Homo sapiens: one gene and its partners. The protein of the gene in region 2 interacts with the protein of the main gene of each other region in a pairwise test. Each region holds a gene or a part of one and is shown on either strand. Other genes may lie near its edges.

Region 1 (3,191 bases), on a different chromosome or scaffold from region 2:
GTGTTCTCCACCATGCCCAGCTAATTTTTGTGTTTTTAGTAGAGACGAGGTTTCACCATGTTGGCCAGGATGGTCTTGATCTCTTGACCTCATGATCCGCCCACCTCCGCCTCCCAAAGTGCTGGTATTACAGGCATGAGCCACCACGCCTGGCCTGAGGGTTTCATGATTTTTAAAGCTGCCTCAAAAGAGAATATTGTTCTTTGGGAAATTTGAAACAAGCACATGAAGTACTACATTAAAAGTTTTATGATATTTACATTTCTTTCTTTTTTTCTTTCTTTCTTTCTTTTTTTTTTTTTTTGAGACAGAGTCTCGCTGTGTTGCCCAGGCTGGAGTGCAGTGGCGCGATCTTGGCTCACTGCTACCTCCACCTCCTGGGTTCAAGTAATTTCTCCTGTCTTAGCCTCCCGAGTAGCCGGGACTACAGGCACCTACCACCATGCATGGCTAATTTTTTTTGTATTTTTAGTAGAGACAGGGTTTCACCTTGTTGGTCAGGCTGGTCTCGAACTCCTGACCTCAGGTGATCCACCCGCCTCAGCCTCCCAAAGTGCTGCGATTACAGGCGTGAGCCACCGCGCCCGGCTATTTACATTTCTTTAAAAAAATTTTGATAGAAACACATAATGTCAAATTTACCATCTAAACTGTTGAAGGTACAGCTCAGTAGCATTAAGTATGTTCATGTTGTTGGGCAACAGGATATTTACATTTCTGATGCTAGTGAAGGTAACATGCTCTGCTGTACTCACTACACCTTGGACTTTTAAAAAATTTGTCTTCTTTTGAAAATAGATATATAAGGGATATGTTGATGATCCTCGAAACACTGATAATGCATGGATGGAGACAGAAGCTGTGAACTACCATGACGAAACAGGTAACTTTATATTTATTAAACTGGCTGGGATTAAAGGATCAATTTAAGCCATTAGCCCACTAAGGCATGATTAAATCTGGACTATTTAGCATCTTAAACCAATTAACTGTTGATTGTAGGACTGTAGTTATATGAAAGCAAAATTGTTGGTATTAAAGGAATACATAGAAGAAATCTTCAAAACTTTTATCACCAGTGACTAAATTTTCTTTAATCCATTGGTAACATTTGAAATTAAGGATGAAATTATGGGCTAAAATGATATGCTTTAAAGATGTCAGATTATTTATTGAGTATAGTTCCCTTTTTTTGCAAAACAAAAGCAACTGGGATTTGGGTAGGAAGTATGGCAATGATAAAGGAAATGGGATTTATATCTTACTATTTCAAATATTTTTATAATAATCTTGGATTGTTAATACACAAAGCAATAACAAAAAATTCCAAGTACTGAAAAAATTTTAAATGAATGCTGTTTCTGGTGTATGGAATTTAAAATTTTATGAGGAGGGTCAAACCTGTTATTACAGAAGGAGAAAGGAAAAATCTGCTGTCTTAAAAATTAATTTGGTCTTAATGTACACATTGAATGGCTCCCTTGAAACATATTTTATTGCTAAATTTGATTTGTTTTTATTTGTAGCATAAAAGTGGGGGCACCATGCTAGAGAAATGAAATGAATGTTCCACTCATAGTTCTTTCTGAGCTGTGTAACCTTGTACAAATCATTTGTCCTCTTGGACTCAGTTTTTTCACTTACAAAATGGGCTAGAACTAGATCTGTCATTTCCATATCCTGTGCTTTTGCTTGTTGAACTTGGAGGAAACTCCTGGGACCATTTTCTATTCCTGTATTTCCACTAAGGTGTATTAGAAGAGTTTATCCTAGTATGAAAACTTAGAAGAAATATGCAGATGTAAATTAGAAGCAGGTCTGTACAACTTTAGTACTGATAAATTTGTTAACTACTTTAAAGTTTTGGAGTTAAAAACAATGACTGATCCTCCAGAAGTTGATTATAGAGTTTATGGATTGTTCACTGTTTTTACCCTATCTTTTTCTCTCTTTAAACTTAAAAAATTTTGTTTTGATAATTCCAAAATCTCTGCCATATTTGAGTTCGGTTTTAATATTTGCTTTGTTTCTTTAGGCTATGTTTTTTGCCTTTTAGCGTGCTTTTAGTGCTTTTTTTTCTTTTTTCTTTTTTTTTTTTTTTAACCCCGAGATGGAGTCTTGCTCTGTCACCCACGCTGGAGTGCAGTGGCATGATAATGGCTCACTGCAACCTCTGCCTCTCGGGTTCAGGCGATTCTCCTGCCTCAGACTCTCAAGTAGCTGGTACTACAGGCATGCACCACCATGCCTGGCTAATTTTTGTATTTTTAGTAGAGATGGGGTTTCACCATGTTGGCCAGGCTGGTCTCAAACTCCTTACTTCAGGTAATCCACCCACCTTGGCCTCCCAAAGTGCTGGGATTACAGTCATGAGCCACTGCGCCTGGCTGTAGTGCTTTTTTGAAAATTGACCATGATATAACTTGTAAGGGAACTAAGGCAAATAGTTCTTTAGCGTGAGGTTTTATGTTTATCTGGCTAGGAGTTAGGCTGTGTTTTTTGTTTGCTGTCATTGTATGTGTCAGAGGCTAAAATTTCCTCTAGTTTTGGGTTTCCCTGGAGACTTATTAAATGAGGTCTGAAGCATGCCCTTCTTTCAGCTGTCTTCCCCTTTTATTAAACAGGAGTCCTATTGATAGATATGGTGGTAAATTCTAGAGGAAGGGGAATCATAGGAGAATATATGGTTAGATGTCAGTCTTTTAGTGAGCCTGTGGCCCTGGGCTGTGACCCTTCATATGTTATTCTCAGCTTCCCTCCTTCCTCCCCAATCCTTAGGAAAGACAGGAAATCCAGCGGGGGCTGGAGTTGGGTATTTCCTTTCCCTCAGGTTGCTTAGGGCTTGGTAAAATAGTTTTCCTTGAGGGCAGAGTGATCTGGGTGTATTTGAAATTGGTTACCTTTCCCCTCTCCATGTTAGAAAGGAGAGAGGATTTTTCTCCAGTCTTCACCTGGTGGCTTTCTTGGAGGTAAAGCTCACTAAAATGTAGGCCCCCTCTTCATACTGGTATGGCTGACCCCCTAGGAGATTTTATCTTTCAAGCTAGTCCAAAGGTCAGCTTTCAGCAGTTAGTTACCCTTTAAGTGTTCCTACCAGGTGCTGACTCCAGCGGTAGGCTTCTCTCCCTGGTCAGTTGTGATTCTCTGTATTTGCCTGTCTCTCCAGTTTTTGGTATGGCAGTGTGGTCTCT
Region 2 (3,500 bases):
TTTAGTGGATATAAGCCATCTCTGTAAAGCAGCTCAACTCTTCAAGGGATGTCCAACAGAAAATAAGGATCAGATCTGGGTCTCAAACTTTTTAGTTAACAATCCTCAGGCCGGGCGCGGTGGCTCACGCCTGTAATCCCAGCACATTGGGAGGCTGAGGCGGGTGGATCACGAGGGCAGGAGATCGAGACCATCCTGGCTAACACAGTGAAACCCCATCTCTACTAAAAATACAAAAAATTAGCCCACCGTGGTGGCGGGTGCCTGTAGTCCCAGCTACTCGGGAGGCTGAGGCAGGAGAATGGCGTGAACCCAGGCGATGGAGCTTGCAGTGAGCCGAGATCGCGCCACTGCACTCCAGCCTGGGCAACAAAGCGAGATTCCAAGATTCTGTCTCAAAAAAAAAAAAAAAATCCTCAGACATTGTCTCTTTCAGTACATACACAAAAACACACACACACACACACACACACACACACATTTGTTTCCCCTAATATTCAGAGTCTCACTGTGTCACCCAGGCTAGAGTGCAGTGGTATGATCATAGTTCATTGCAGCCTCAAGCCCCTGGGCTCAAGCAATCCTCCCATCTCAGCTTCCCAAGTAGCTGTGACGACAGGCATGTGCCACCATACCCAGCTAATTTTTTATGTATTTTTTATTATTATTATTTTTTTTTGTAGAGACAGAGTCTTGCTCTGTCGCCCAGGATGGAGTGTTGGAGTGCAGTGGTGTGATCTCGGCTCACTGCAGCCTCCGCCTCCTGAGTTTAAGCAATTCTCCTGCCTCAGCCTCCCGAGTAGCTGGGACTACAGGTACACACCGCCACGCCCGGCTAATTTCTTTTGTATTTTAGTAGAGATGGGGTTTCACCATGTTGCCCAGGCTGATCTCAAACTCCTGAGTTCAGACAATCCACCTGCCTCAGCCTCCCGAAGTGCTAGGATTACAGGCATGAGCCACTGCGCCTGGCCCCCAGCTAATTTTTAAATCTTTTTTAGAGTCAGGGTCTTGCTATGTTGCCCAGACTTGTCTCAAACTCTTGGCCTAAAGAGATCCTCCCACCTCAGCCTCCTGAGCTGCTAGGATTACAGGTGTGTGCCACTGCATCCAACTTCATCTATATTCTCTTTGATTTATAAATCTGTATAACTGGGCCTACACTGAAATCCAGTACTGCCTGGTAAATAAAGCATCAGTTTATACTCCTGAAGAAAAAGAGTCTCTTCTGGCATTTTTCTTAAAAATGCAGGATGGGAAATTCTGCATCTTACTGCACGGGTGTCCCTGATGGAGTGAGAAGACAGAAAAATCACTGATCAATGCAAGACATGTTTGGAAGTTATAATAATGTCCACTTCCCTAGAGATATCCCAAACATTGCTCACATATAGCACATGATGGTTTTTCTAACTGCTCATTAGAGGACTAACCTTTCCTGAACCCTGTGTATTTCACTTACTCTAAAATTTTATAGAGCTTTCCATAAATATTTCTAAGGTAAGGTAAAATGAGTCTTATCATGTAAAGTTTTTTCAAAAATATGTTTTAAGCCATAGGAAATATTAAATTCCTTGTGAGTGGTGACACTATATTATACTTACGGGATTCTTCAGTGTAGAATTATGCAATATACATACCTAATAAACATCTACAGATTGGTGGGCTTTTTAATACTACAATTCAAGAGTGAGAGTTATGTTGGTTAATAGCCATAAATTCATTATCCCTGAATCATAAGAGAAGAATTCTTAATCTGCAGTCAATGGATAGGTTTAGAAGGTCAATGACCTCCTGAAATCCTACACAAGTTGTGTGCATATTAATAATTCTGATGAGAGAATCTGTGAAGCTTTTGTTTTCTTTTCAGAATCTCAGTCTATAATTTTAAAAGGTTAATAATCATTGTCCCAGGATATGACACAGTAAAACATTAAGCAATGTTGTAGACTAAAACCAGAAGTTGAAGGCAGAAACCAAGATTTAAAAAAATAAATTTAAGATCTTCCCCACTATATTATCAATTTATTTTATCTTATTACTATTTTTTTTGAGACGGAGTTTAGCTCTTGTTACCCAGGCTGTGGTGCAATGGCACGATCTTGGCTCACTGCAATCTCCGCCTCCCAAGTTCAAGCGATTCTCCTGCCTCAGCCTCCCAAGTAGCTGGGATTACAGGCGTGTGCCACCATGCCCGGGTAATTTTTTTTGTATTTTTAGTAGAGATGGGGTTTCACCATGTTGGTCAGGCTGGTCTCGAACTCCTGACCTCAAGTGATCTACCTGCCTCAGCCTCCCAAAGTGCTGGGATTATAGGCATGAGCCTGTAATAAATAGCACCTGGCCTATTATTTTGAGACAGTTTCATTCTGCTGCCCAGTCTGGAGTGCAGTGGCATGATCTTGGTTCACTGCAACCTCCGCCTTCTGAGTTTGAGTGATTCCCGTGCCTCAGCCTTCCAAGTAGCTGGGATTACAGGCATATGCCACTGCGCCCAGCTAATTTTTGTATTTTTAGTAGAGACAAGGTTTTACCATGTTGGCCAGGCTGGTCTCGAACTCCTGACCTCAAGTGATCCGCCCACCTTGGCCTCCCAAAGTGCTGGGATTACAGGCGTGAGCCACCATACCTGGCCTATATTATCAATTTAAATGATTTTATGCCAAATTAAAAACAAGTGGTCACCCTACCAATAAATATACGTATATATCTTTTTCTTGAACTTTCCCTAAGGAGATGTTTATATAATTTCCAAGTTATGTAATGTGACCAACTCTACCCTTCAGTTTTCTCATCAGTAAAACAAAGATAATTGAAGTAGAACTATTCCAAAACTGGGATTAACAAATTCTATAGTTCTACAGCTAGTTCCATAGAATGTTAACTAATAGTCCAACAATATGATATGTTTGGGAATTGCTGGGTTAACCAAAATCTTAAAAACTTTTTGTGGGTAAGACTCTTCAGTATTCCTATCCTAATATTTGTAATAAATCTTCAAGGAGAAATAGCATATCCAACTTTTTCCCAAATAAATTTGGCCACAAAATTTCTCTCTAGAGTAATCCTGTCCAATAGAAATACATTGTGAGCCACATATTAAATTTTTAAATTCTCAGTAGCCATATTAAAAAATAAAATACAAAGAATTAGGTGAAATTAATCAACAATATATTTCACTTAACCCAATATATAAAAAATATCCTGGCCTGGGCAACATGGTGAAACTCCGTCTCTACCAAAAATATAAAAAATTAGCTGGACATGGTGGCACGCCTGTGGTCCCAGCTACTTGGGAGGCTGAGGTAGGAGGATCACTTGAGCCCAGGAGGCAGAGGCTGCAGTGAGCTGAGATTGTGCCACTGCATCCAGCCTGGGTGACAGAGTGAGAGAAAGAAAAGAAAGAAAATTAAGAAAGAAAGAAACAAAGAAAGACAAAAAAACTGTTAATGAGGTATTTCATTCCTTTTTTGTACTCTTTGAAATCTAGTGTGTATTTT
Region 3 (3,500 bases), on a different chromosome or scaffold from region 2:
CTCCATAAATATGCTCTCTTCTTACTAATTATTCTTTCTTTCTTTGTCAAACAGGCTACCAAGCAGTTTCTCGAAGAGATTAACAAGTGGACAGTTCAGTACAATGTTTCCCCGCTGTCTTGGAATGTGGCTGTCAAGTTCCTCATGGCAAGGAAGTTTGATGTGCTCCGTGCCATAGAATTGTTCCACTCCTACAGAGTATGTGGCTCAGGGGTAGACCAGACCTGTGGCAGTTGGGTTAAGTGTTGCTGTTGTCCCTGTCATGCTCGACACACACATTGGTTCTCTAAGTGTTCCTCCTCACTTTCATAAAAAATGGATCCATATCCAGGAGCCCTTGTGAGAGCTGAAGCTGGGCAAGGCAGCTACTGGAAGGCACTACTTTTGTACCTAAGTTTTGATCGTAGACCAGGATGCCACATCTAATGATTGAGACGGAGGAAGTAGCCTGACAGCATCCTGGTGGCAGGATAGGGGTTCACCCTTCCTAGAGTTTTAATCCTAGCTCTTTTCATTGGCCTCTGGCCACATGAAAATCTTGGTTTTCAGGTTGTCTAAGGCTTTTAGAAACTTGCCATTCAGATGAATGATGAGCTTAGTGGGCAGTTCAGGAAGGGAAGTTTTAACACTGGAAAAGAAGAGCAACTGTGTATTAGCTAGGTCCATTATCTTAAAGTATCTTTATGCAAATGTAGCGGCATCAGGATTTTACTTTGTTTTGATTTTTGTTTTTTGAGGGGGCATAGACTTTGGTTTTGTGCTTGTTTGCTTTCTCAGTTAGTAGTGTCTTTGATAAAACACTATACAGCATGTTACTTTGGGGTCAGAATCCTTCTAAAGAAATACAAAATCTCCCTAAAAAAAAAAATTGGGATAACAAGCACTAGGATTAGCTTAACTGAAGTTTGGTTACATCTGTCTTGTGGACCAGCTCATTCAATATTCATTCATTTACTCAACAGATACTTATTTTATACTTACTGTGTTCCAGGTGCAGAGATTACTATTTAGAAAGAGAGACTAGGGCTGGGTGCGGTGGCTCATGCCTGTAATCTCAGCACTTTGGGAGGCCAAGGCAGGTGGATCACTTGAGGTCAGGAGTTTGAGACCAGCCTGAACAAAATGGCAAAACCGCATCTCTACTAAAACTACAAAAATTAGCTGGGTGTAGTGGCACCTGTATTCCCAGCTACTCGGGAGGCTGAGGAGGGACAATCACTTGAACCAAGGAGGTGGAGGTTGCAGTGAGCCGAGATCACACCATTGCATTCCAGTCTGGGCAACAGAGTGAGACTGTTTAAAAAAAAAAAAAAGAAAGAGAAAATAAACAAAGAGTTGTAGAAATGTTATGATAAGGCAGCACTGGATTCTGTGGAAGCACTTTTTTTTTTGAGACAGAGTCTTGCTGTGTCTCCCAGACTGAAGTGAAGTGGCATGATCTCAGCTCACTGCAGATCTCTGCCTCCTGAGCTCAAGTGATCCTCCCACCTCACCTTAGCCTCCCGAGTAGCTGGGACCACAGGCATGCACCACCATACCTGGCTAATTTTTTGTATTTTTAGTAGAGACGGGGTTTTGCTATGTTGCCCAGGCTGGTCTCGAACTCCTGAGCTCAAGTGATCCACGCACCTCGGCCTCCCAAAGTACTGGGATTACAGGCATGAGCCACCGTGCCCAGCCTAAGAGGTTTAAAACAAGCGGTTGATGAAATAAGACAAACCAAGATAATATTTTTTTGTTATCGGTATATAAAGGTAGAGAATGTCTCCGGAAAAAGGAAGTGTAGGTGGTCAACCTTGTCATTTAAGAGGAGAACTGAAGAGGCTGGGCGCGGTGGCTCATGCCTGTAATCCCAGCACTTTGGGAGGCCGAGGCGGGTGGATCGCTTCAGCCCAGGAGTTGGAGACCAGCCTGGGCAACATGGCAAAACCCCGTCTCTACTAAAAACACAAAAATTAGCCAGGCATGGTGGCACGTGCCTGTAATCCCAGCTACTCAGGAGGCTGAGGCAAGAGAATCTCTTGGACGTGGAGGTTGCAGTGAGCCAAGATCATGCCACTGCACTCCAGCCTCAGCAACAGTGTGAGACTTGGTCTCAATTAAAAAAAAAAAAAGAATCTGGCCATCAGGGTGAGGAAAATGAAGTCATGGTAGCTGCTGTTGGAGACAATATCAGGTGGAGAGAAGGCTCCTATTTAAACATAGGAGAGGCCTAAACCTAGAAAATATGTGAGAACGTAGGCATCCAGACATTTTTGAGGTCCATATTTTAGTGTCCTGGTACCATGTCAGTGCTGCTGCGTGTTTAAGAACCTTGATCCTGCACCTGAATGTAACATACTGGTTACTCTTCAGGGTTAGGGTTCTTACTGAGTCAGAGAAAAATACCCTACCTGAGGGGCTGATAAAGTAGCTTTGGACAGGAATTCCGAAAATGCTTGACTGGCTTGGAGGCAGGTTACAAAGAAATTCATAATTCATTTAGTTGACTTCATTATTCATTTAGCTGAATTCTTTTTTTTTTTTTTTTTTTTTTTTGAGACAGAGTCTCATTTTGTCACCCAGGCTGGAGTGCAGTGGTGCTGTCTTGGCTTACTGCAACCTCCACCTTCTGGGTTCAAGCGATTCTCCTGCCTCAGCCTCCTGAGTAGCTGGGATTATGGGCGCGCACCACCATGCCAGGCTAATTTTTGTATTTTTAGCCGAGACAAGGTTTCACCATGTTGGCCAGGCTGCTCTCGAACTCCTGACCTCAGGTGACCTGCCCGCCTTGGCCTCTCAAAGTGGTGGGATTACAGGCGTGGGCCACTGCGCCCGGCCCATTTAATTGAATTCTAATTCAACTAAATGAAGTAGAATTGGTTATGAAATTAGTTACAAAATTTATTTAGTTATGAAATTTATAATTCATTCATTCATTGATAACCACCTTATCTCTGAGATTTGGTGGTTACATGGTGCTGTCCTGGATATACAGTATTTTCATATTAATACATTTTGCTGTGCTTCCTTTTTAGGAAACTCGAAGGAAGGAAGGCATTGTAAAGCTGAAACCTCATGAGGAACCTCTTCGTTCTGAGATCCTCAGTGGAAAATTCACCATCTTAGTGAGTGTTTAGGGACCTATCTTGTAGGGCCTTATTACTTCCTTTTTTAACTGGTGTCCTGTTTGGACTTTGTTTTTTTTTTTTTTTTTTTAATTTTATTATTATTATACTTTAAGTTTTAGGGTACATGTGCACAACGTGCAGGTTTGTTACATATGTATACATGTGCCTTGTTGGTGTGCTGCACCCATTAACTCGTCATTTAGCATTAGGTATATCTCTTAATGCTATCCCTCCTCCATCCCCCCCTGTTTGGACTTTGTTCCTATATACCTTATCCTGAATCTAGAGAGTCTCCACAGTTAGGAGCAGATGTGAAACAGCCATGCAGTTTGGTATAAAATTATTTTAGTAACAATTGAATTACTAATAGTTTCTAGTAATTAGAGTTAC
Region 4 (3,500 bases), on a different chromosome or scaffold from region 2:
TTGGGAGCTGGGCAGGGTTGGGGGTGATATAAAAGCAGCAGAAGGCAAAGTTCCAGCCTCTGATGATAGTCCAGAGAAGGACCCAACACTGTGAGCGAACCTGCATGGGCTCAGAGCTCCAACCACAGGCAGGCAACAGAGGGTCCCAAGCAGCCTCTCCCACTCTGTGAGTTGATATAGCCGATGACACACAAGGCTTTTAAAGGCCAACCAGCCAAGCGCAAGGTCCTGATGGCAATTTAGTTTTCTGACTAAAAACCTAGTGAAGTTTACTGCTTAAAACATTTAAATTAAAATATTTGGCTCAGGAAGTGATACTGGTGACATGGTTAAGATGCTCTGAGGTTAGGTGATCTGGGTTCACATCATGACTCTGCCACTGACTTGCTAGTGTGACCTAAATCAAGTCATGTGAGCTTATCTTTGTGCCTCAGTTTCCTCATCTGTTCTTGAAAGGACTGGATAAATCCATGTAACAGCATTCAGGACATATAGTAGGTGCTTAAAAACCATTAGCTAATGCCATTATTATTAGTAGTAGTATTGCAAGCACACAGACATTCTGGAATGAAGTTCAGACTTGGTGAGACCAACGGTTAGGGTGAATGGGATCAGTCTGGATAACCCGCAGTTGTTCCTGCCAGGCACAGTCTCATACCTGAGTTGGGAGGAAGGCTGGGCTGGGGAGGACCAGTGTGGTTTATTTAGTGCTGTGGTATGAGGCATCATTCAGGAGAGGCAGTCCAAAGTGCTGGCAGCCTGCTTCGAAACCAGGGACACAAATGTCCACTGGTATTCCTTACCACTTCACCTTAAAGGAGAAAACAGCATGGGAGGCTTTTGTCCAGGTACATTCAGGGAGAGGCAGTTGGGAAGAAAACCCCTCTAACTCCCACAAGCTCCCCAGCTCCGAGCCATGGAACACTCTCCTGCCAGATTCCTCTCCCTATAAAAAAACCCACGTTCATCATGCCAACGCGTTGCTCAAATGGCTCCTCTACCTGTAGACATGTATGTAGACATATATATAAAACCCAAACTCCTGCGCCTGAAGTCCCAGGCATCGAAATCAGGCCCCCGGCCTCCTTTCCAGCCTCCAGCTACGCGCGAGCCATGTGAGCGCACTCCACTCTGCAGGTCCTACTTTCTCAGGCAGGCCCGCTCGCCCCTTCATCTCTGTACGTCTGAAAACCCACCCATTAGCCAAGGGTGAGGGCCTTGGGGCCTTGGGGCTGGGAATCAGCTCTGCCCTGACCAGCTGGGCTGCTCCAGGCATATTCTCGAACCATCTCTGACCTGTTTCCTCTCCTCGAAATGATGGTATAAGTTATTATATTGTCCAATATAAATGGAGGGGTGGGTGGATATACTTTGAAATGTGTTAAAGCACCATATAAATTCAAGAACGTATTCCTATTCAGGCCCTTGATTCCCAGCTCTTCCATATTTACGTTCTCCTGACAGCTGATCTAACTTGCTGGTCAGATTCCTACATTGTAAGTTACTCTTCTTCTTGCACATGGACCTCTCTTCTCTTCAAACTATAAGCTCCTTGTGGGAGGCTCTTGTCTCAGACAACTCTGACTCTTCCCACTCCACCCACACACACAGAGTGATCCACCCACACAAATTACAAGCGCAAGCGTTGACTGAATTCACGAACCACTGCCACCCAGGAAGGTAATTAAGGATCCTAAAGTTGAGGTTGAAGGGTTTCTTTCAACGTTTCTTTCAGACGCTTACAGGGTTGTCTTTAAATCTGGCCAAAATACTGTGGGTGGCTGTGGTAGGCTGAATAATGGTGTCTCAAAGATACCCATACCACAATCCCCAGAACCTGTGAATGTTACCTGCAAATGGGACTTTGCAGATATGATGAAGTCAGGGATCCTGAGATGGGGGATTATCCAGGTGGGCCCAATGTAATCACAAGGGCCCATATAAGAGGGAGGCAGGCAGGGCAGAGTCAGAACGAGGTGATGGGAGACAGAAGTGAGGCTGGAGTGATGCCATTGTGAGGAAGAGGCCACAAGCCAAGGAATGCAGGCAGCCTCTAGGCTGGAAAAGGCAAGGGGTCGGGTCCTGCCCTTGAGCCTCCAGAAATGAACCAGCCCAGCTGATACCTTGATTCTAGCCTAGTGAGACCAATTTCAGACTTCTAACCTCCAGAACTGTAAGATCATACATTTATGATGCTTTGAGCCACAAACTTTGTGGTAATTTATCACAACAGCCATAGGAAATTAAAGCAGATCCTTGGGTTGGGGAGAGGGGCTGTATTCTAGAATAATTTCCAGACCATTCTTCTAAATTAACTTTGGTCACTCCACAAATACTACTGAATGCCAACCAAGTGCGAGGCACCAAGCTGGGTGGTAGACTACCCCACAGACAGCTCAGTGCATTCCTGTTCTTAATGACGGAGTCCTGTTGACTTTCTCTATATTGGGCCCATACTACATGCCAGGCAGATAGATATATATATATATATATTTTTTTGAGACAGGGTCTTACTGTTGCCTAGGTTGGAATTCAGTGGCATGATCACAGCTCACTGCAGCCTCAACCTCCCCAGGCACAGGTGATTATCCTGAGTAGCTAGGACTACAGGTGGGTACCACCACACCTGGCTAATTTGTTTGTATTTTTAGTAGAGACAGGGTTTCACCATGTTGCTCAGGCTGGTCTCGAACCCCCGACCTCAAGTGATCTGCCCACCTCGGCCTCCCAAAGTGCTGGGATTATAGGTGTGAGTCACCGTGCCTGGCCTCGGTTTTATATTCTTAATCTTTCAAAACACTTTTACTTCAGGTTTAATATCTCAATGAAATAGGAATAATAACAAGAACAGCTACCATTTATTATTCCCCTCTGTCTGCCTGTCACTTTATATTACCTCTAGTTCTTACAAAGACCTGGTGAGGTATTATCCCCACTCATTGATAGGATAATTAAAGCTCATCAAGGCTGAGCAATCTCCTAAGGGCCAAAGCTGTGGGATGCTGGACCCTTCCACACCTGTCTGACTCAGGCTCCAGTCCTTTCTTCTTACTGCCTAGGAAGCTGAGAGATAGCAGAGAAGAACACTGCCCCAAATCAATAACTCCTTTTTTGTTAAATCAATAGTCACTCAATATGAGACATCAGCAAGGTTTACATCCTGAAATGTGTCTTCCTGGTTACAGAAAATTGAGTCATAAAAATTCTGGGGCCAGCTGGGCTCTCAAAGGCCATCTGGCCAAACTCCCTGCTCTGGAAAGTTTGTCAGCTGCCAGGACTGAGGGTATCACAATTCTCAGCACCAGTGATCCTACCCACTAGAGGCAAAGCTTGGTTCCAGAGCCAGTTTGATCTTAAACATAAATAGTGGAAAGAGGCAGACGCCCTACACTGAAGACTGCCTCTGGGTGTGCAAGAGCTAGGAGGAGCCATCGGGCACACGGCCCTCAGTCTTGCCACACTCAACACCAGCACCAACCTTTATTAGCATCACCTCCAAA
Region 5 (2,204 bases), on a different chromosome or scaffold from region 2:
TTCCCTATGAACAGGGTGTGCTTACGTTGATAAAATGAACCAAAATCAGCTTATGGAAAAGTTAAAAATACAGTTTACTGAAAGATTATGTATCCTCACACAGAGCAATAGCAAACAATCCAATCTAAAAGTTTAAATAAATGTCAATAATTTTAAAACTAACTATATTTTATATGTATATAAAGCTGAAGTCACTGCCTTGGATAGTGTTACACTGCATCCAATATTTTATGAAGGACATTCATTCTTAAGGCAGAAAAATTGAATTTGACATGTAATGACTTGGTTCTTACATCCAAGGATCAAACTAGGAGTAGACTGGAGCAGACAGATTCCTTGCTAACAAGGATTTACCTGTGGTGACAGTTTCATTCTTAGAGTATGTTACGTAAGAGACATACATTTGAGAGAACATATAAATATGAATCTTAAGACACACAAATATGATTTTTTAACGATTGGTCAATGAGACTAGGCATTCTATTATGTGAAATGAGTCCCATGACAAACGCCAACATACTCTTTCTGACATGGTACATAAAAAGTATAAAATATCAAAGAACTACTTTTTTGGGGTAGACATTAGATTCTAGTTTTCAAGGTTTAGTATAAAAGGTAGCCTGAATAGTTAAAAGCAGCTGAATGTCAACTCACTGCTACTTGGAAGGCTACCACTTAGGATATTCCCACACCATCAAAATCCTGTGCAAGGAGGAAATACATGTGTATTAAAATAAAAATGAAGCGCCTCCCCCAATACATGTGCAACATACTTGTCAGTTACTACCAAGAATATCTTGAACGAAAACCAGCTAAACTATAGAATGAGTGGCATCAAAGTCAGAGAGACGTAAGAACATACCACCCCGCCTAGGTGGACGGATATTTGGGATGAAAGCAGGTGTTCCATGGGCACCTGGGGAGATGTGCTACTCAGAGTGGAAGGGGGTGTGAAGAGGAACTGGACCCAGGGTTCCAAGCCCTCAGGGCTGTGTGCTCCTTCACCTCAGGCCAGTCTGATTCTCTGCATCCTGGTGCCAACAACTTTAACAAAACAAACACAAATCTAAAAGACCATTCTGAAGCAGGTGATGGTGACTATAACTGTTTAAGTACCTTTTTGTGTGCCTATTTATGCCATAGATCTGGCAATTGTCAGAAGTATACAAAGATTACCTGCCTAATTTTTGAAGACATGAAGATTTTCTTCTTTCACTGTGGCAGGAGTCCATGCAAGATTTGTAAACAGCGATACAAGATACTGTAAACATAACTTAACAGAGCTTGTATAAAACAGAAGAAATAAATCCAGATTTACGAGTGGATAAAAAAAACAGAGGGCAGCTTCTTACAAAGTTCTCCCTCCTGCGCCAAGTGATTTTTTTTTTTTGATTACAAATATAATCCTGAGCTGAAAAACTGGGATTTGGGGGAGAGCCATCTTTGCATACAAAATATCTAAAGGATGCTTCTCTGTTTACTTTTCTCTAGTGATATTCGACTGCCAGAGACAGTTCTGAATGTGTGACTTTGGAGACATTTATAGTTTAGTGTGGCGCCCGGGTCTGGAGCCTGCTGCAGTGCTTGCCACGGAAGCGGATGCGGCAGCATCCTCTGCTTCCTCCAGTTCATCCTGGAGTTCTTGGCTGACACTAGACTGCAGGGCTGCGGGCGTGAGCCACTCCTTCGGGAGGCAACTCTGTAGAAAGGGTATACAGGAGCTGAAGTAGGCAAGTCGATTGATCCAGCGAGGAATCTCTTTCCCACAAAGAATCTACAGAAGAGAAAGAGTTCTGTATTAGGTAAGAGAGGTTAAGATTACCTGGTCCACTGCCAGGGAGTGGAGGGTGGGAGGAGGGGGGCGGCGTACAGAGAAGCCACGGCAGACTAGCCTTCAGTGGTGTCACTCCAGGCTTTTGATAACAAGCAGCTCTTTACTCAGGACCTGGGCTCCCTACTGTTGGCTCCATTCCTTCCTTTCTAAAGAACCTTGTCAAGTTGCTTACTTTTCATATCTGTGAAATCAAGCTAATTTCACTTGGCTCCTTTCTTTGATCTCTGCAACTGCTGTGAGACACACTGAAAAGTACTTTGAACACACAGAAGACGCTTGTTAATACAATATATTATTAGAGTAATAGAAGCCCCAGGCAATTGGAAGAGTCAATCTTGGATATTTTCCTATTTGTGAATTCTTCTTTTTC
Region 6 (3,500 bases), on a different chromosome or scaffold from region 2:
TACCGTGTTTCTAGGCTGCTGAATAATTTTCTAAGCCTGGTGGGTGGGCAGTTGTTTTATTCACAAATAGTGGCTATTCCACTGATACACAAAAGACACAAGAAATAGGAGATCTTGCCATCCATTGAAAAAGCCTTGACCTCCTTGTTGATGAAGTTTTTCCCTTGCCTGCCCTCACTGGAGTCTGGCCTAAGTTTGGAAGGAGCTGTCTTGGAGTACAATGTAGGAATAAATGCTGAAGGCTAAACAGATGCCTTAACTTTGAACTTCCCAACTTGAAGTTTCCATAGACACTGGCAAGTGGGGAGGACACTGTGCTGTGGGAGTGTGGACAGCTTGTAGCATCTGAAAAAGTTCCATTTCCTGCTTTTTTGTTTTTCTGTTTTAGAACAATGGCCTTTCAAATGAGGAAGAGGGAAGTGAAAATGGACTTTTTGGGGAGATATTTAGAGTCTTCAAACTCTATTTCATGCAGTCTACAATTTTTAAAGTTATTTTTGGAGTAGTCTCCTTAACACCTTGCAGGAAATTTGGCTTGTAGGACTGTTACCAAATAGGGGTCCTGACCCAGACCCCAGAGAGGGTTCTTGGATCTTGCTCACGAAAGAATTCAGGGCGAGTCCATATAGTGAAATGAAAGCAAGTTTATTAAGAAAGTAGAGGAATGAAAAAATGGCTACTCCATAGGCAGAGCAGCCCCAAGGGCTGCTGGTTGCCTATTTTTATGGTTATCTCTTGATCATATGCTAAGCAAGGGGTGGATTATTCATGCCTCCCCTTTTTAGACCATATAGAGTAACTTCCTGGCATTCCCATGGTATTTGTAAACTGTCATGGTGCTGGTGGGACTGTAATGGTGAGGACCACCAGAGGTCATTCTCATCGCCATCCTATTTTAGTGGGATTTGGCCAGCTTCTTTACTGCAAACGTGCTTTATCAGCAAGGTCTTTATGACCTGTATCTTGTGCCGACCTCTTATCTCATCCTAAGAATGCCTAACCTTCTGGGAAGGCAGCCCAGTAGGTCTCAGTCTTATTTTACCCAGCCTGTATTCAAAATGGAGTGGCTTTGGTTCAGACGCCTGTGACAAAACAAATGTTTCTGAAATATTCAGTGTAGATTTGGATGCTTCTCTTTTGAGTAGCTTCCTGCTCCTAACCCTGACCATTATTCTCAGTTCATCTCAGCAATACTTTTCTGAAACAAATTGTTTTTCAATCTCTCTCTCTTTCTCTCTCTACCTCCCTCCTTCTGTCTCTCTCTACCTCCCTCCCTCCCTCTCCCCCTTCCAACTCTCTCCCTCCCTCGTCTCTCTCTCTCTTTCTCTATCTCTCCTTCTCTTTCTTTTTCTTGTTTCGACAGATTCTCATTTATAACTCTTTTGAAATGATGAGTTGTAAAAGTACATTAGACTGGACCAGAGGAAAGTTTCTAAACCTAACTTTATTATCGTACTTCTCTGTGACTTTTTTTCCCCTTCACCTATAAAATTAGAAGGTTAGATTCAGATGTTCAATAGGTAGTTCTGACCATACAGTGGTCAAAATTTTCAAATTGCAGTGCTATGTTATAATTTCAATACAATGCTATGTTTAATCATATTCCACTTCACCCTAATGCAACTATAACAAAGATATATCAGCTTGATTGTAACTAACATGCCAAAGGTTTTGATGTCTTAGGTTGGAAAATGCTTATTTGTTAATTAGAGAATGAGAGTGGGAAAAAGGCATAAAGGTTTTGTAAAGCGGATTATTTTTTCCTTCAGTTTTCATTTGTGACCTGATCTGTATAAAATACAGTGTCATGCTGAAAACCCTATGTAATTAAAGCCATGGGAAATAGAGAATTTTAAAATCCATGACTCATTCACCTGCTGCAGTCTGGCCCACACCTTTACTAAGTGAGATGTCAGCTTCCTAACTGAACCACATGTGTATGTGAAGTCTAGTAAAATAGGTTGTGAGTCAGTTTTTATTATGATATCCATTTTTAGTTACTGGTAGCCATTAAGAGAGTTTCTCAGGCATTCAGAAAAGTCCATCCCTTAGTGAAAAGGTTTGGTCTCTGAGAGAAGGACCTAGTCATTTGAGACTCAATTTATTTCAGGAGTAGAGATCCATTGATCAATGATCACTGTAAAGCATAATAGCCCTAAAATACATACACTAAAAATAAAAAGGAATTATATAAACACAAATCACAGTTCTCAATCTGATACAGAATTTACAGGGACATTAATAACATTTAATACACTTTCCCATTTTCTCCAGCACCAAGGAGAGCACCTGCAGAGAGTATATGAGGGCTTATGACACTTAGTCACTTGATGTGTGAGCAGATACATGTCATACAGGCCTTATTTTGCACTGATGTCCTTAGTAGTGTTACAAAAGCTGCGTAAGGTATCAAGCTTCTTTCGGTTTCTAAGGGGCTAATTAAAAATTAATCTGCTACCCCCTCCTGTAGGCTTTGTCTTTCACAGTTTCCTTTCTTAGGTTTTCCCAGTTTGACTTCCCTTCTGGCAGACTTTTATAGTGAACAGAGCACCAGACTGAGAACAAGAAGATTGGAGTCTTTCCCTCTTCTACAGGTTTGCAACCGTGTCCATTTCCTTATCTGTAAAAGGAAGGGGTTCATTTAGATGACAACTGTTTTCTCTTCCAGTTCTAAAATCCTCCATTGGCTTTTCTTCTGCCTTTCTCCTTTTGTCTACGGTTTACTTCTTCCCTGCTCCCTATCTCAGCTACACTCATAATATGCATAGTTGTTTTAAAATAATCATAAAATAAACATGGTTGTGAGGAAACATCAATAAATACAGTTGCTGGTAAAATTTGGAGTTTAGAAGTTCTCATTTTGATAATTTCTCACTTTGTTAGCCTTTCTTATGCCCTAAGCATAAATATAGCTAGCAGTTGTATTTTCTTTGGTTTGCAGTTGTTATAAAATAAAACAATAATATATTTGCACCCATGATAGTAAAAGTTTAAAAGCTTGATATAATCCAGTATTGGCAAGGGTGTAGGAAAATGCTTACTTTCATATGTTGTTGTAGGAATGTAATCAATACATCTTTCTCAGAAGGCACCTTGGCAGTATGAACCAATATTTTTAGAGTATATGCCAATTTACTAAGTGGCTCTAAACATCTTTAAAAAACTCATATGCGTATATTAAGAGATATAGCCAAGGATGTTTATTGCTGTGTTGTTTATAAAAGCAAAAATTTGGAAATATCCTGTACTTCCATTAAGAGAGGAATGGTTAACTAGGAGACATGCACACACTCACACACACACACACACACACACACACACACACACACACCCTCCATCTCCATATCATACAGATAGTAAAAATAGTAGAATGAAGTTGATCTGTATGCACAAATATATCTTAAGTAGAAAAGTAAGACAACCATATTTTCCCTATGATTCATTTATATAAAAACTACTTAATTATCTATATACATATATGTACATAACTATATAGAAAA
Region 7 (3,500 bases), on a different chromosome or scaffold from region 2:
TTGGAGGACTTTTCAAAGGTTAGCAGTGGATTTAATACTAAATTTGTAAGGAAGTAGCCTGGACTTATATTTAATACAGACTCTTTGAAAGTCTGTGTTATTAAGTGCAATAGAGGATTTAATTGGTGAAATTTTCGCATATTAGAATTTTTTTTTTTTAAGACAGGGTCTCACTCTGTTGCCCAGGCTGGAGTACAGTGGTGCCATCTCGGCTCACTGCAACCTCCACCTCTCAGGTTCAAGTGATTCTCCCACCTCAGCCTGCCGAGTAGCTGGGATTACAGGCACACACCACCACACCCAGCTAATTTTTATATTTTTTGGTCAGGACAGGGTTGGGACGGGGTTTCACCATGTTGGCCAGGCTGGTCTCGAACGCCTGACCTTAAGTGATCGGCTCACCTCGGCCTCCCAAAGTGCTGGGATTACAGGCATGAGCCACCAAGCCTAGCCAACAGTTTAGAATTTCTCATTTAATTATTCTGCTTTTACATTTTTCAGAAATTTCTCGCAGTCTTCCAAAATGTAAAAACAAAGAGGTTTTCTAAGACATAGTGAAAAATACATTTCTGTGATATCTTTTAAGTTTATTTCATAATGCTTTACTATGCACCCTCTTTGAAAGGGACAAATGTGGATTCCAATTATGGAAAAGTCGCCTGGTTATTGCTTTCTAAAGGACTGAAAAAGCTAATGGCACAAGAGAGAAGACAATACCCTAAAATTATTAAGGCAGGCCCAAAGAGCTCTTGTTGACTATACCTTTAGCGAATTCTTCAACATGCAACCACTCTTTCTCAACTTGCGTTCTTTATTTAGGAAAACTAGGAATCCAACCAAAAAGTACAAAAGCCTAGAAATAAGTGAAATCTCTATGTATTTCATCCAAAAGACCACTGGGATGGCTAGATAGTAGAAAGGAGAGCTTTATTGATGATATCAGTTTGCAAACTGGGAAGAGACAGCCTCCAGCATGTGTGGAAGGTGCCCTCTCTTCCAAGAGAGGAAGGGCAGGTTGGGTTTTATGCCTCACAGGGCCTGTATCACACAGTAGAGTCATACATATTCAGTAGGTTTTGGGGGAAAGCTATCCATATTTATGAGGGGAGCTGAGCACATGCAGAATGAGTAAACATATATGTAACATACATCCCATGTTTACTTCGGGGCAGGGTTTTAGTGTTAGAATGAGGTGAAATTTGGCTCTTCATGTCAAAAGGTGAACTGTAGGACATAAACACAGTTTGTGCACCGCATCTATAAGCTGCTAAAACTGGCTTAAGGTCTGCAATTGCTTACCAGGAAAGAATGTGTGTAAGGTCAGTCTTCTGTCTAGTCAGAGTTATAGTGGTCTGGTTAGTAAATCAGGGTAAGGAGGGGGTCTCATAGCGCCTATTGTTAGGGAATTTCAATCATTAGGAATTTAGTAATTTGCCCTCCAGCCAGGCCTTGAACCCTGGACCCATCTTAGTTGATATAGGAGTGTCTATTTTGGCCCCACAGATCACATATATTCATCAGAATAGTCCGAATCTTATTTTCCTTCTTAACTTGCAATGAGTGAATATACAACGAAGTAGATGTTCATGTTCCGGCTAATTTTAGTTCATCAGCATTTTCTGGAAGCAACCAAAAGTCATATGTATTTAGACAGCTGTGATTTCTGCCAATTCAGCTTGCTTCGGGAACTGAGGGGATTCAATCTTACTTTATGCCCAAATCTGTTTGCTTGTGGCTGTTAGCATTAATCTTTTAACCTTTGATTTGCATTCATCTGAAAAGCTAGAGATGATTGTCCTTAATAATTAGTGCCATTCTTCTGTATTTTTGCTTGGATTACCCATGAAAACTAAATGAGACTTTAATTTACTGAGTAAAGCTCTGTCATTATTTTATCAGTTCTAAAGGGCAAGCGTGATTTATTATACAAATAAAACTAAGGAATGGTTATGTGACTTGTCCTTAAATTCCTGCAGCCAAGTGGATTTGGAATTCCTTTTCTAATCTGAGATTTATCTTCGCAGGAACCACATTGACTTGACACGCCTCACAACACAAAGGATAAATTCCATGCCCCTTTGGCTGGAATATGCTAGTAGATCTATTTTCAGAAGTTAATCTCAGATTTGAGATATTTTAATTCTTCTTCTTATTTATTCCCTGGGATGAGTCCAGTGCTCTGCATACATTCTTAATGCTTTAGGTGAAAGAAGGATCAGGCCAAGAGAAACATTCCTCCCCATGGAACAAGGGGTGGGAAGGGATATAAGAACTCAATGTAGAGTCAGAAGATCTCAATGCTGGAATCATCCACGTTCATTTTTAGAGAAGGAAATTAGGTTCAGAATGAGAAGTGAAGGTGAAGTCTACCTGTTGACCTTGTCTTTGGTAACTAACAAATGATTGGACCCAATGGGAACATTGCTATTTTATGCATTGGATACTTTGAAGATGAAAACTTCATTATAAACCAATGATTATTTAAGAGTTGATATTTATAAGTCACATGTTCATAACAGCATTCCATTTGAATTGAACTGTCTATTTAAGATAAATCCAGCTGTGATAGAAGGCATGGTCTCCATTTTGAACCGGGTTTCTGACCATATGAAACTCAAAGAAGTCTAAAAGTTTCTCTGATGTCTATCTACCATTTGCAGAAATGAAGATCAGATATTATATATTTACAAACTCCAGTGGTAAATATATGTGGATAGACTGTATGTACAGTTAGACATGATTTAAGTTTTTGCTTCTTCCTAGATAGCTGTTTCTATTATGCTACTCTTTATAGCAATAAGAACTTAGGAATCCCCCAACATGAACCAAGCACTGTGCTGGTAAAGAACAACAACAAAAACAGTAGAAGACACTGTGTCTGCCCTCCAGGACCTGACAGTTGAGGTAGAGAAAGAAAATGTATTTGCTTGAAAGTAAGAGGATAGTAGGAAATTAGCATATAGTCAGAATCTATGGGGAAGGATCATGGATGATATGTTTACAGCTTAAAGGAAGAGAGCTACTGATGGACACTAGAAGTCAGGAAAGGCTTCATAGCAGTTGTAGGACTGTGGTGGAATCTTGAAGTGTGTGTAGGATATGAACCAGAAGAGAAAAGGGATGGATTCTAAGCACAGAGAACAAGTATGACATAGTAACACTGATGACAAGTGTGAAGGGATAAAAATACATATGGTAAATTCAAGAGATATTTAATAAAGGAGTCTTGTCAGAGTTGAAGATTCATTTTGGCAAGTGGTGGAAGATGAGGCCTCATAAATGGATGATGAAAGGTCTTTGCACTGAACTAGAGTTTAAACTTAATTTCATATACAATAGAGAGCTACTGAGGCTATAATCAAAAATCTGGCATAAATAGAGTATAATCTCGTCTGTGGTATGCTATCCTGTCTGTGATATGAAACATATGTTAAGTCCTTGTGAGTTCAGCTTTTTGTCCCAGCTAATTATCATCATTATTAAGGATTATCTTTCAAAAT

What was found.
Region 1: the proteins of PBX3 (region 2) and NUDT9 interact in a two-hybrid assay, tested with the Homo sapiens proteins (one large-scale study listed by BioGRID).
Region 3: the proteins of PBX3 (region 2) and PTPN9 interact in a two-hybrid assay, tested with the Homo sapiens proteins (one large-scale study listed by BioGRID).
Region 4: the proteins of PBX3 (region 2) and COQ8A interact in a two-hybrid assay, tested with the Homo sapiens proteins (one large-scale study listed by BioGRID).
Region 5: the proteins of PBX3 (region 2) and DESI2 interact in a two-hybrid assay, tested with the Homo sapiens proteins (one large-scale study listed by BioGRID).
Region 6: the proteins of PBX3 (region 2) and TRIM44 interact in a two-hybrid assay, tested with the Homo sapiens proteins (one large-scale study listed by BioGRID).
Region 7: the proteins of PBX3 (region 2) and GAD2 interact in a two-hybrid assay, tested with the Homo sapiens proteins (one large-scale study listed by BioGRID).

What each region holds. Positions count from the first base shown.
Region 1 is NC_000004.12:87,453,573-87,456,763, forward strand, and holds part of NUDT9 (ADP-ribose pyrophosphatase, mitochondrial isoform a precursor), read left to right. Parts: intron 1-798; coding exon 799-883; intron 884-3,191.
Region 2 is NC_000009.12:125,925,373-125,928,872, reverse strand, and holds part of PBX3 (pre-B-cell leukemia transcription factor 3), read right to left. Parts: intron 1-3,500. UniProt on the Homo sapiens protein: Transcriptional activator that binds the sequence 5'-ATCAATCAA-3'.
Region 3 is NC_000015.10:75,523,816-75,527,315, reverse strand, and holds part of PTPN9 (tyrosine-protein phosphatase non-receptor type 9), read left to right. Parts: intron 1-54; coding exon 55-198; intron 199-3,017; coding exon 3,018-3,107; intron 3,108-3,500. UniProt on the Homo sapiens protein: Protein-tyrosine phosphatase that could participate in the transfer of hydrophobic ligands or in functions of the Golgi apparatus.
Region 4 is NC_000001.11:226,946,794-226,950,293, reverse strand, and holds part of COQ8A (atypical kinase COQ8A, mitochondrial), read right to left. Parts: intron 812-3,500; exon of another isoform or gene 659-811; intron 1-658. UniProt on the Homo sapiens protein: Atypical kinase involved in the biosynthesis of coenzyme Q, also named ubiquinone, an essential lipid-soluble electron transporter for aerobic cellular respiration.
Region 5 is NC_000001.11:244,705,126-244,707,329, reverse strand, and holds part of DESI2 (deubiquitinase DESI2), read right to left. Parts: intron 1,775-2,204; coding exon 1,541-1,774; 3' UTR 1-1,540. UniProt on the Homo sapiens protein: Has deubiquitinating activity towards 'Lys-48'- and 'Lys-63'-linked polyubiquitin chains. Deubiquitinates 'Lys-48'-linked polyubiquitination of RPS7 leading to its stabilization.
Region 6 is NC_000011.10:35,721,775-35,725,274, forward strand, and holds part of TRIM44 (tripartite motif-containing protein 44), read left to right. Parts: intron 1-3,500. UniProt on the Homo sapiens protein: May play a role in the process of differentiation and maturation of neuronal cells. May regulate the activity of TRIM17. Is a negative regulator of PAX6 expression.
Region 7 is NC_000010.11:26,296,774-26,300,273, forward strand, and holds part of GAD2 (glutamate decarboxylase 2), read left to right. Parts: intron 1-3,500. UniProt on the Homo sapiens protein: Catalyzes the production of GABA.